Linked DNA regions of Homo sapiens: region 1 is linked to region 2. A link means that fine-mapping ties the variant in region 2 to the expression of a gene that starts in the linked region. Tissue or cell type: whole blood. Region 2 holds a variant in brackets; the other region holds the start of a gene. All regions are shown on one strand. Distances are between the middles of the regions.

Region 1 (5,719 bases), 67 kb before region 2:
TAAACAACAATAATGATCATGAGTACTTCTTGAGCTCTTCCTCTGTGCCAGGTACTGTTCTAAGCACTTGACTTGAATTCACTCATTTAATTCACACAACTCTATGAGCTAAGTACTGTTATCTATTCACCAATAATCATGAGGAAACAAGTACTAAGAAGTTAAAGACCTGACCAAGTTTCACATCTAGTAAGTGGCTGTGATGGTGAATACTGAATCAACTTGATCGCATTGAAGGATGTAAAGTATTGATCCTGGGTGTGTCTGTGAGGGTGTTGCCAAAGGAGATTAACATTTGAGTCAGTAGGCTGGGAAAGGCAGACCCACCCTCAATCTGGTGGGCACAATCTAATCAGCTGCCAGCACAGCTAGAATATAAAGTAGGCAGAAAAATGTGAAAAGACTAGACTGGCCTAGCCTCCCAGCCTACTTCTTTCTCCCATGCTGGACCCTTCCCACCCTCGAACATCAACGAACATCAGACTCTAGGTTCTTCAGTTTTGGGACGCAGACTGGCTCTCCTTGCTCCTCAGCTTCCAGATAGCCTATTGTGGAGCCTTGTGAGCATGTGAGTTAATACTTAATAAACTCCCCTTTATATAACATTATATATATATCCTATTAGTCTGTCTAGAGAAACCTAATATACTGGCAGTGCTGGGCTAGGGACCCAGACGGTCTCACTCCCCAGCCCCACTTAGCAAATCACTGTGCCACACTGTCTTCATCAGCCCGGGGGACTGCAGGCGCCACACCATCTCCACCAGCCCACGTGATTGCAACCCTGGTGCCTGGTGCTGCCTCCTTTGCAGGCTGGAAATTTGATCTGAACCTTTTTCCAGACTTCCAGGCTCAGAGTCTGGGATGCTGAAACATGCTCATTTTCAAGAGACTGAGGTATACATGTGCATCAGCTTCACCTGCATGTTGCCTCCCAGAAGCTACCTGGCAACATGCAACGTCAGAAGGTTGCCTTGTGAGTATAGAAATAGAATAGAGGGAATGAGTTCTACGACCGAACTGTTTAATGACCTCAGCATCCTATGTCCTGATATTGTGCCTGTGGAGGATAACATTTTTATTTTATTTTTAAAGACAAGATCTTGGTCTGTTGCCTACGCTGGAGTGCAGTGGTGCGATCGTGATTCACTGCAGCCTTGAACTACTGGGTTCAAATGATTCTTCCACCTCAACCTCTTGAGTAGCTGAGACTACAGGTGTGCACCACTACTCCTGGCTCATTTTAATTTTAATTTTAATTTTGTAGAGACAGGGTCTGCCTATTTGCTCAGGTTGGTCTCAAACTCCAGTGATCCTCCTGCCTTGCCCTCCCAAAGTGCTAGGATTACAGGCATGAGCCACCTCACCCATGACACATTTTTTTTTTTTTCTGTATCTGACACCAAGAGTTTGTTGGTCTGAGAGATTAGGTCAGACCCTCTGGACAGGATCTCCCTGACTGACCGGTTTCTTCAGCCTGGCCCATTCTTTCTCTAGATTTATTAATGATTCAGTGACGTGCCCGTTGATCTAGTTGCCCTGGAAATAATGCCTCTGTTTGAGATGACATTTCATATCCTTACACTCTGATTCACCATTCAATCATTTACAAATATGAACACTTCTGTGTACAACAAATGGAGGATACAGTAGACAGACATTTCAGTGGAAGAGATACAGATAATTAATATGTAAATGAGTGAAAAAGAGAGATTACTTCAGATGGTGATAAATGGTATGAAAAATTTCCAGCAGGGTAACGAGATTGAGTATTGAGATGGAGGATGGTGTGGGGCTGTAGAAAGGGGGGACTGGGGATATCTCTCTGAGGATGTAGAATCTGAACTGAGCCCTGCATGTGAGGAAGGAGCCAGTCATGATCTTAAAAGTTTCGTTCTCCGCCGGGTGGGGTGGCTCACACCTGTAATCCCGGCGCTTTGGGAGGCTGAGGTGGGCGGATCACCTGAGGTCGGGAGTTTGAGACCAGCCTGACCAACATGGGGAAACCCCGTCTCTACTAAAAATACAAAATTAGCCAGGCGTGGTGGCACATGCCTGTAATCCCAGCTACTAGGGAGGCTGAGGCAGAAGAATCGCTTGAGCCCGGGAGGTGGAGGTTGCAGTGAGCCGAGATTGCGCCATTGCACTCCAGCCTGGGCAACAAGAGCGAAACTCCATCTCAAAAAAAAAAAGTTTCGTTCTCAGAGGAAACACTTCACGCCTATCCTGTGAAGTGGAAGTTCATTGCTTGTCTCCAGAGAGACAATGGTATAAATTAGGCAGCTATGGTTGCCGTAGTGTTGCTGGTATTGGGGATTAAGTACATGGCGATTAAATGGTCATGTGGCCGTGCTTTCCAACAAAAATTCCAGACACATCGTCTTACATGTAGCATGAGGACTGGAAATATTTGAAATCAGGGTTGTCTTGGACTTTCCAAGGCACATGATTACCATAATTAACAGGCTACAGAGGGCTGGCCTGGGCCTGACCCCACGCTCCACACTGTTGATATGGAAACTGTTCCCAGTTTCTAAAAAGCCAAATAACAGGTGAACTTTTGGAATAAAATCACTTGCCTTTTGGAACCATATTTCTTTTCCCCAACAACATTACATGTTCTTTCCTCAGCAAAAAGTCTGAGTTGTACACATTTTTGAATCCCTCAAAGCATTTAGCAGAGTGCTGGGCATACGGAAGACAGCAGGATCCCGTGGCTTTGCCTGAAACGCGGAACCTGGTCTTGACTTTTGAGTGACTGAGCCCTCCTGGTGCCCGCACTCTGGCCGGGAGTGCCAAGCAGCGTTCTCCCTCCCGCCGCACGGGGGCACAATGGGAAGCCTGCACAGTGAGGAAGAGCGGCTGGAGCCGGTCTTGTGCCGGGGAGGTCGCTGCTCCCAGAATGCACCTGGCATCAACACGGCGGCGGCGGCGGCGGCTTCCAACAGGCTCTGGGGCGCCGAGCGGACAGGAACGCAGCACGGGGGCTCCGAGGCGGGGTCTGGGTGTTGAGGGGCGACTGGAGCCATGGCGGAGTCGGCGCCTGCTCGGGTAAAGAGGCACCGGCGCGCTGGCTCGAGGGCGCGTTGGGGATGGCGGAGTCCCCTGCCGGGGGCGGGGCTTCGCGGTTTGGACGCCGCCGGGGTCTTGGTTTCCCGGGGCTGCCGTTGGCGCGGGTGAACGCGGACCCTCCTCTTCGCGACCCCAGTGCTCTGCCCTTTTTTCCCTCCGCTTCCTTCTGCAGCGGGGTCGGAGCCTCGGCGCCGTGCGCCCTTGCCCAGAAACTTCTCTGACGCTTGCTTTAGGTTGGTGGATTTGTGACCCTGCCCACACATTTTCTCTTTCGTGCCAAAAGAGCCCGTTCCCAGGTTGGAGTGTTTCCAGATTGGAAACGGTCTCCGTCGCTACGAGTGAGCTCTCCCGCTGCCCGGGAGACCCCAGGACTTGCCTCTCTGCGACCACCTCCTCTTCGGTCCGATGTGTTGTCGGTTTTTCCAGTGCTGCAGATTTCTGTCTGGGGGTTGCAGCCACAGGTTGAAGTCAGCCTGGGCTGCTTCTCCTTGGGGACGGATGTTATCTACAGTGCAGTTGCTGCATTTTGTTTGTAGAGCTGCCCAAACTCTCTCCTTCACCCCCCCCCCAACACCCCCCTCCCAGCCCACCGACCATCCCCATTCTGGGAATGTCAAGATACGGAGTTTGGTGTGAGGAAAATCCTATTTGTGGAGTCACGAAGCTTTCAGCTGTCCATTTGGGTGATTTTAGGCAACTGTGTTCGCTTCTCTGGGTCTCTTTCGTTTTCTTAACTGTAAATCGAGAGTGTTGGAGTAGTTGCTAGATGATCTCCAAGGCTTTAAGTTTCCTTCCAGCTCCGACATTCTCATACTGTTCCCATACTGTTTCAAAGTAGTGGTTAATTTAACAACACCAGAGGGTTTGCAACGGAAGGGGCAGCTGGAATTGAATTGACTTTTAATGAAGTGTTCCTTGGTCTAGAAACACTTCGAGAATCATGTTAGATCTTTGTGAGAATGGAGGGCTAAGGAAATTCTGTGGGGAAAATTTGACCATGAGCAGGGTGCGCTATATTTGATTCTTGTAGAAAGTGCGTTAAGAACTAAGAACGGAGAGATTGGGAGACTTAGAGAACACAGTATTTGCTTTCAAGGAAGTTAACAGTTGAATTGGGAAGACAAGACACAAATGTTTACAATATTAACCTCATCTGACTCCTATAAGCTAGGCTGAGCCAGTCAAAGACTTGGCTTTTCCACAAGATCTAGTTAGTGTTAGAGTCCGGCGAGAGGATTCTGCCACAGTTCTTCCTGCCAGGTCACTCCACAATTACCTACATGTCGTCAGTAGACCTTGTTAGGAAGAAGCCTTAAAGGTCCACCACAGGCCAGGCGCAGTGGCTCATGCCTGTAATCCCAGCACTTTAGGAGGCCGAGGAGGGCGGATCACGAGGTCAGGAGTTCAAGACTAGTCTGGCCAATGTGGTGAAACCCGGTCTCTACTAAAAATACAAAAATTAGCCGGGCGTGGTGGCGGGTGCCTGTAGACCCAGCTACTCGGGAGGCTGAGGCAGAATAATCGCTTGAACCTGGGAGGTGGAGGTTGCAGTGAGCTGAGATCGTGCTATTGCACTCCAGCCTGGGTGACAGAGCAAGACTCTGTCTCAAAAAAAAAAAAAAAAAAAAAGTCCACCACAATCCCAAACTATGCCTTAAATAACATGAATCTGTCGTTGTAGAACTTATTCAAATTGTTCTTGAGCCTGTTTCTCTTCTCAGACATTTCAGGTGTCTGTCATTTAACAGTAAGCTCAAGTAGGTGCCCTGATGAAACAACTGAAAATGCTGGAAAACCCTGCACATAAATGCATTTGAAATGTATTTTAGTAAAGAATACTTGGAGCCCCAAAACTTAAGCGAAAGAGGAAACTCGAAAGTGATAGAGTTCTGAAGCCAACTTTGAGGGCATTGGCCAAACATTCATCTTTGGTGTTTATGATTCAAGGGACCTGCAAAATGGAACACACATCTCAGAGCCTAAGATGGAAAGTCTAAGAAGCTCCCTAACCCAATCCCATGAAGCAGAGAGTTCAAAGGGTAACATTCTGTGTAAGGGTGAACTGAAAGTAAGGTCTGACCTTCAGATGATTGCAAAGTAAGTTGTTAAACCTTGGCACTGAGATTACAGGCGTGAGCCACCGTGCCTGGCCATAGTTTCGTTTCTTTTCTTTCTTTTCTTCTTTTTCTTTTCTTTTCTTTTTTTTTTTTTTTTTTTGAGAGAGTCTCGCTCTCTTGCTCTGGCTGGAGTGCAGTGGAGCAATCTTGGCTGCCTGAAACCTCTGCCTCCCAGGTTCTAAGCGATTCTCCTGCCTCAGCCTCCGGAGTAGCTGGGATTACAGGCATGCGTCACCATGCCTGGCTAATTTTGTATTTTTAGTAGAGATGGGGTTTCACCGTGTTGGCTGGGCTGGTCTCTGAACTCCTGACCTCAGGTGATCCACCTGCCTCGGCCTCCCAAAGTGCTGGGATTACCACTGCATGAGCCACCGCACCCGGCCTAAGGCAGAGGGAATTCTTAAAAGCAACCAAAAAAAAAAAAGACTACCTTGAAATGAAGTACAGCAAAATGAATGGGGGCCAGCTTCTCAACAGCAACCATGGAAGCTAGGCAAAAGTAGAATGATATTGTCAATAGGCTGAAAGAA
Region 2 (5,928 bases):
TGCCAAAATTGCTTTCCAAAAGGGTTGGAGAGGATTGAAAATGTGGAAAATCCCATTTTACCCTTGCCATCTTAAAATGTTAGTGCTAGATAACAAACAAGCAGAAACAAAAACAAAACAACAACAAAAAGTACTGTGTTGACGGTATTGGTCAGCCCGGGCTGCTAAAACAAAATACCATGGACTAGGCAGCTTGAACAACAGAAATTTATTTCTCACAGTTCTGGAAGCTGGAAGTCCAAGATCAAGATGTGGGCAGATTCTCTCCTGGCTCTCCTTAGGGCTCTTCTTCTGGCTTGCAGACATCCTCAACATGTTGGGGAGAGAGGGAGAGAGAGTGGGAGAGAAAAGGAGAGAGAGAGAGAGAGATGTGGAGATGTGGTCTCTCTTCATGTAAGGGCACTAATCCCACCCTGGGGCCCCACCCTCATGACCTCATGTAAACCTAATTACCTCCTAAAAGCCCTACCTTCAAACAATATCACTTTGGGGATTAGGGCTTCACCATATGAATTTTGGAGGACACAGACATTCAGTCCATAACAGTAACCAAGAAAAGTTTCTGGAAGGCAACAGCATGACCAGATTCATTTTGTGTGCATTATGGGTTGAATTATTTCCCCCTCCCTTTTTTTTTTTTTGACATGGAGGCTCGCTCTGACGCCCAGGCTGGAGTGCAATGGCACAATCTCGACTCACTGCAACCCCTGCCTCCTGGGCTGAAGCAATTTTCCTGCCTCAGCCTCTCCAGTAGCTGAGGCCACATGCGGGTGCCACCACGCCCAGCTAATTTTTGCATTTTTAGTAGAGACAGGGTTTCACTGTGTTGGCCAGGCTGGTCTCGTACATCTGACCTCAAGTGATCTGCCCCGCCTTGGCCTCTCAAAGTGCTGGGATTACAGGTGTGAGCCACCACCCCCACCCCCCAACAAATTTATATGTTGAGGTCCCAAACCTCAGTACCTCATAATGTAACCATATTCAAAGATGAGGCCTTTAGAGAGGTGATGAAGCTAAAAAGAAGCTGTTAGGGTGGGGCCCCAATGTAAGAGGACTGGCGTCCTTATGAGAAGGGGAAGACACCAGGATGGGCACACACAGAGGAAAGGCGTGTGAGGACACAGTGAGAACGTGACCACCTGCACACCACAGAGAGGCCTTAGGAGAAACCAGTACCACTGACACCTTGATCTTGGGCCTCCAGCCTCCAGGACTGTGAGAAAATAAATGTCTGTTGTTGAAGCCATCCAGTCTGTGGCGTCTTGTTATGGCAGCCTGAGTGGATTCATGGTGGGTCAATTGCTGATGTTTTGGAGAGTGAACAGCTCATAGGACACGGTGAACCAGCTGCAGCTTCCTTCGGGCTGCGTGGAGGCTGCCGGCACCACCCCACAGGATTCTTCTCTGTGTGGATGCTCCTGGGGGTTTGCTGAACGCTGTGGGCCCCAGGAGGTACTAACTCTTTTTGCTGGCGGGAGAAGGCGTCCCTCCAGGGGCTTGGATTGGCCTTTATCTTTCCAGAAATATTTGCTGAGCCCGAGTCATGTGCTATGTGTTAGGTGATGGGGCTACAAGGCAAGTAAGGCAGGGTCCCCAAGGCTTAGACCAGCGGGGATGCCTGTAAGAAACAAATCACTACACTCATGCTAGAGTCAGTGTTTTGGGAAATTTAACGTAGGGTTCCTGGACATTGCAAGTATGTGTCCTTTTTAATTTGTATTTTATTATAATATACAGACAACTGGGTTTGGGAATCATATTACTCCTGTTTTTTTTTTTTTTTTTTGAGACGAAGTCTCACTCTGTCTCTCAGGCTGGAGTGCAGTGGTGCCATCTTGGCTCACTGCAAACTCTGCCTCCTGGGTTCAAGTGATTCTCCCACCTCAGCCTCCTGAGTAGCTAGGATTACAGGCACCCGCCATTATGCCTGGCTAATTTTTGTATTTTTGTAGAGACGGAGTTTCACCATGTTGACCAGGCTGGTCTTGAACTCCTGACCTCAGGTGATCCGCCTGCCTCGGCCTTGCAAAGTGCTGGGATTACAGGCATGAGCCACCATGTCCGGCCACTCCTAGTATTTTTAAAAAATATTGTGGGTGTTTTAGTATTTTATATTTACTTTTTGTTAGGAAAAAAGGTACATGTTTGTGTGGGAACATAGAGGCCCAATGGGAAGGGGGCAGAGAAGGAGATGAGGTGTGACCCCATCACAGAAGGGGTGACACCTAGGCTCCGGTGAGTTTTTGTTCTTGTTACATTCTCTTCCTTTTTAGAAAGGTAAGAAAATATTGACACAATAATATATCTACATGGTTCAAAATTCCAGTGGCACAGAAACAATGGTATCTCCTCTCACTCTTGTCCCCAGCCACCCATGTCCCCTCCTCGCAAGCAATTGATGTTCCCAGTTTCTTGTAGATCTTTCTAGAGTTTTTTCATGACATAAATGCAAACATGTCATCTCCCCTTTTCTTCCCCTCTACAAACAGTAGCAGGCTATGGCGGAAACACATTTTCCTTGCTTGCTTTTCTGTTTCTTCTTGGCAATCTTTCCCTATCAGTACATAAAGAGCATCCCCATTTGTAAAGGGTTGCCTGGCATTCAATTGTACGGCTGTATGTAATTTATTTAACAGTCCCCAGATGAGGGACAATTAGGTTGCTTCTAATGTTTTATAATTTAAAATGATGTGGCTACAGAATAACCTTGCAGACATCATTTCACAATTGTGTTTATAGACCTCTTAGTTTCTAGAAGTGTAATTCCTGGGTCAAAGTTATGTGCTTTTAGCATTTCAAAAGTTCTTGCCAGGTGCCTCCTTAGAGGTTGTATCAGTGTACACTCCTACCAACAAC[G/A]CAGAAACATGCCTGTTCCCCATACACCCTGAATCCCTAGTGTGGTATCAGACTTTGTAGTTTTTAGCATCTTAAAGGAGTTTACCTGGAGGTCTTGGAGAATGAGGCTGGAGGAGGAGAGGGAGCTGGGGTTGCAGCTGTTGTGAATGAGGCCAGAAAGTCAGGGAAACTGGAATGGGAGGCAGGGAACTCTAGGCTCTCCAGTGAGCCGTGCTTACTCTCTGCTGCAATAACAACACTAGCCATCGTTTATGAAACATTTGCTATGGGTCAGGCACCACTCTAAGGCTGTAAGCCTGGAGTCAGACTCTTGTTCTGAAAAGGGCCAGATTGTACATGTTTGTTATTCTATAGGCAAAATAGTCTCTGTTGGCAACCACTCAGCTCTGCCTTTTTAACAGGAAAGCAGCCACAGACACCAAAGAAATGAACCAGAGTGGCTGTGTTCCAAGGAAACTTTATTTATGGATGCTGAAATTTGATTTTCATATAATTTTTGCATGCCACAAAATATTTTTTGAAGCAACAGCAAATATTTATTGAACACTTACTCTGTGCCATTAAAAAACAACAACAATTGTTTCATTTACTTTTCCCCAAGTCCCATGAGGGCCCATTTCCCATCCCCCCAACCAAGCCATTGAGAAGGGTAAAATCCATTCGTAGCCTGTGGGGCTGTGCCCCGTGACAGACCACGGTTTGCTGATTCCTGCTGTAGAGGTTCTCATTTAGACTGGATAAAGAAAATATGGTACACGTATACCCTGGAATACTATGCAGCCATAAAAAAGAATGAGATCATGTCCTTTGCAGCAACATAGATGGGGCTGAAGACCATTATCCTAAGTGAACTAACAAAGGAACAGAAAACCAAATACTGGATGTTCTCACTTAGAAGTGGGAGCTAAACATCTTCACATGGATACAAAGAAGGGAACAACAGACACCAGGTTCTACTGGAGGGTGGAGGGAGGGAAGAGGGTGAGGATCAGAAAACTACCTATTGAGTACTATGCTTATTATTTGGTGACAAGATAGTCTGTGCACCCAACCCCCACGATATGCAATTTACCCATATAACAAATATGCACATGTACCCCAAACCTACAATAAAAGTTAAAAAAAAATGAAGGTTCTCATTTAATCCTCACAATTGTAGGACCTTCTATTTTATTCTTTTTGAGGTAGGGTCTCGTTCTGTGGCCCAGGCTGGAATGCAGTGCTGTGATGATGGGTCCCTGCAGCCCCAACCTCCCAGGCTCAAGCAATCCTCCCTCCTCAGCCTCCCAAGTAGCTGGGACCACAGGCACATGCCACCACACTCGGTTAATCTAAAAAAATTTTTTTTGTAGAGGTTGGGGTCTCGCCATGTTGCCCAGGCTGGTTTCAAACTCCTGAGCTCAAGCAATCCTCCAGCCTCAGCCTGGAGGCTGGAATTACTGGTGTGAACCACTGCGCCCCGCTGTAGGGCTTTTACATCCCCATTTAACAAATGGCAAAACAGAGTCCTAGGCAGGTCCAAGAGAAAAGAGGTCTCAGTTAGCACTCAAGGAGGCGGCCACACTCACGGCTCCAGCTGGACCATCAGTAAGGAGGACCGAAGGACTCCCACCCCGCTGCGGAGCAGCCCTTTCCGCCCCGCTCCCAGAGCACTGCGGCCTCCTCCTCACTTGCTTCCTGCAGGTGAGAGGTGGTGGACAGGACCTGTGAGGGTCTGGGCCAGCCTCCTGGCTTCATAGGTAAGGAATGGGGTTTTGTGTGGTGTGTGCGTCTCAGCCTTCACGGAGCATTCCTAACAGTTCTCTACTTCGCCACATGCAGTGAGGTCCACTTATTTTCTCCTGATCTGGGCTATTTCCTTCCCTTCCCTTACTCAGCCCTCCCTCTTACTTGGGGAGCCAAGGTCTCCAGGGAAAGCTATTTATTTCGTGGCCAGAGAGGCCGCAGCCCTAGCAATCCCAGGAACCCCCACATCTGCGCAGGCCAGCCAGGCTGGAGAAGCTGGAATTTCACAGCCTGGAGGTGATCAGGCCCAGTCAGGCGGCTTCACTCTTTTCTCTTCAGTCCCTGCCCTGGATGCAGGGACCAAGTAGCCCCCCTGCGTGGGGACTGTATTAATTCCCTAGGGCTGCCATACAGGGTATTACAAATGGAGTGGCTTGAAACAACAGCAGTTTATTCTTGGACAGTTCTGGAGACCAGAAGTCAGAAGTGGAGGTGCCAGTCAGGCCTGCTTCCTCGGAGACGCTGGGTAGAGCTCTTCCTTGCCTCCTCCCGGCTTCTGGTGTGGCCTTGCTCCTTGGTGCTTTTGGCTTACAGACATTCGCTCCAGTCTCTGCCTCCATCTTCCCATGATATTCTTTCTGTGTTTGTGTCTGTCTCCTTTCCTCTTCTTACAAGGACATCAGTGATATTGGATAAGGGCCCACCCTAATGACCTCATCTTGAGCTCATTATATCTGCAAAGACCCTGTTTCCAGATAAGGTCCCGTTCACAGGTACCAGAGGTTAGGGTTTCAATGTATCTTTTTAGGTGACCCATTCAATCCAAAGCAGGGACCTTGCCTCTTGGCGAACATGCACAGTGAAGACCACCCTTGAATACCAGAGTTCGTCTCTTAAGTGGGCTATAATATGAAAAATATGGGAAGGCATTCATGTGCGAAAGCCAGAATAGGGAGAAGCCACCTGGATTTGAACCCCAACTTCTTGACCTACAGTCCAGTGCCCTAAGCTGTGGCCCCAACACATCAGCAGTTCTTATGGGTCCTTTTCTCCAGTGGGGTCACACTCAGGGCCCATGTTGACTATTAATTCTGCAAGGAGGTCCTGCTGTACTGTAGGCCTTGGGCCTCGATGCCTCTCTAAGATCCTCCCCCATTGTCTCACCCAACACTGTGCAATGACCATCCTTGAACTTTCTTGTCAAGGCTGCACCTGAATCCATTGCTCTTGCTGCCATTTTCACATGGAATTCCTTCCCACCTGCCTTGTTTAAGTAAGCCCTTCAGAACGCAAAGCCCATTTTGAATAGGGAACATGCCATTACCCTAGTTTTGGTCAGGTGTGTAA

Evidence for each region. PIP is the estimated chance that this variant, and not a neighbour inherited with it, causes the effect.
Region 1: ZNF212 starts here. The variant in region 2 is fine-mapped to the expression of ZNF212 in whole blood (TOPMed, PIP above 0.99).

Annotation. Positions count from the first base shown.
Region 1 is chr7:149,236,752-149,242,470 of GRCh38, forward strand. It overlaps ZNF212 (zinc finger protein 212), which reads left to right and starts at 2,900. Exons shown (of 5, transcript NM_012256.4): 1 at 2,900-3,051. The coding sequence starts at 3,028. RefSeq lists an enhancer at 2,667-2,961.
Region 2 is chr7:149,303,440-149,309,367 of GRCh38, forward strand. No RefSeq gene overlaps it. Among named protein-coding and RNA genes, the nearest start is that of TRC-GCA1-1, 3.8 kb to the right of the region's middle. The variant G/A (reference allele first, on the strand shown) is at 2,857.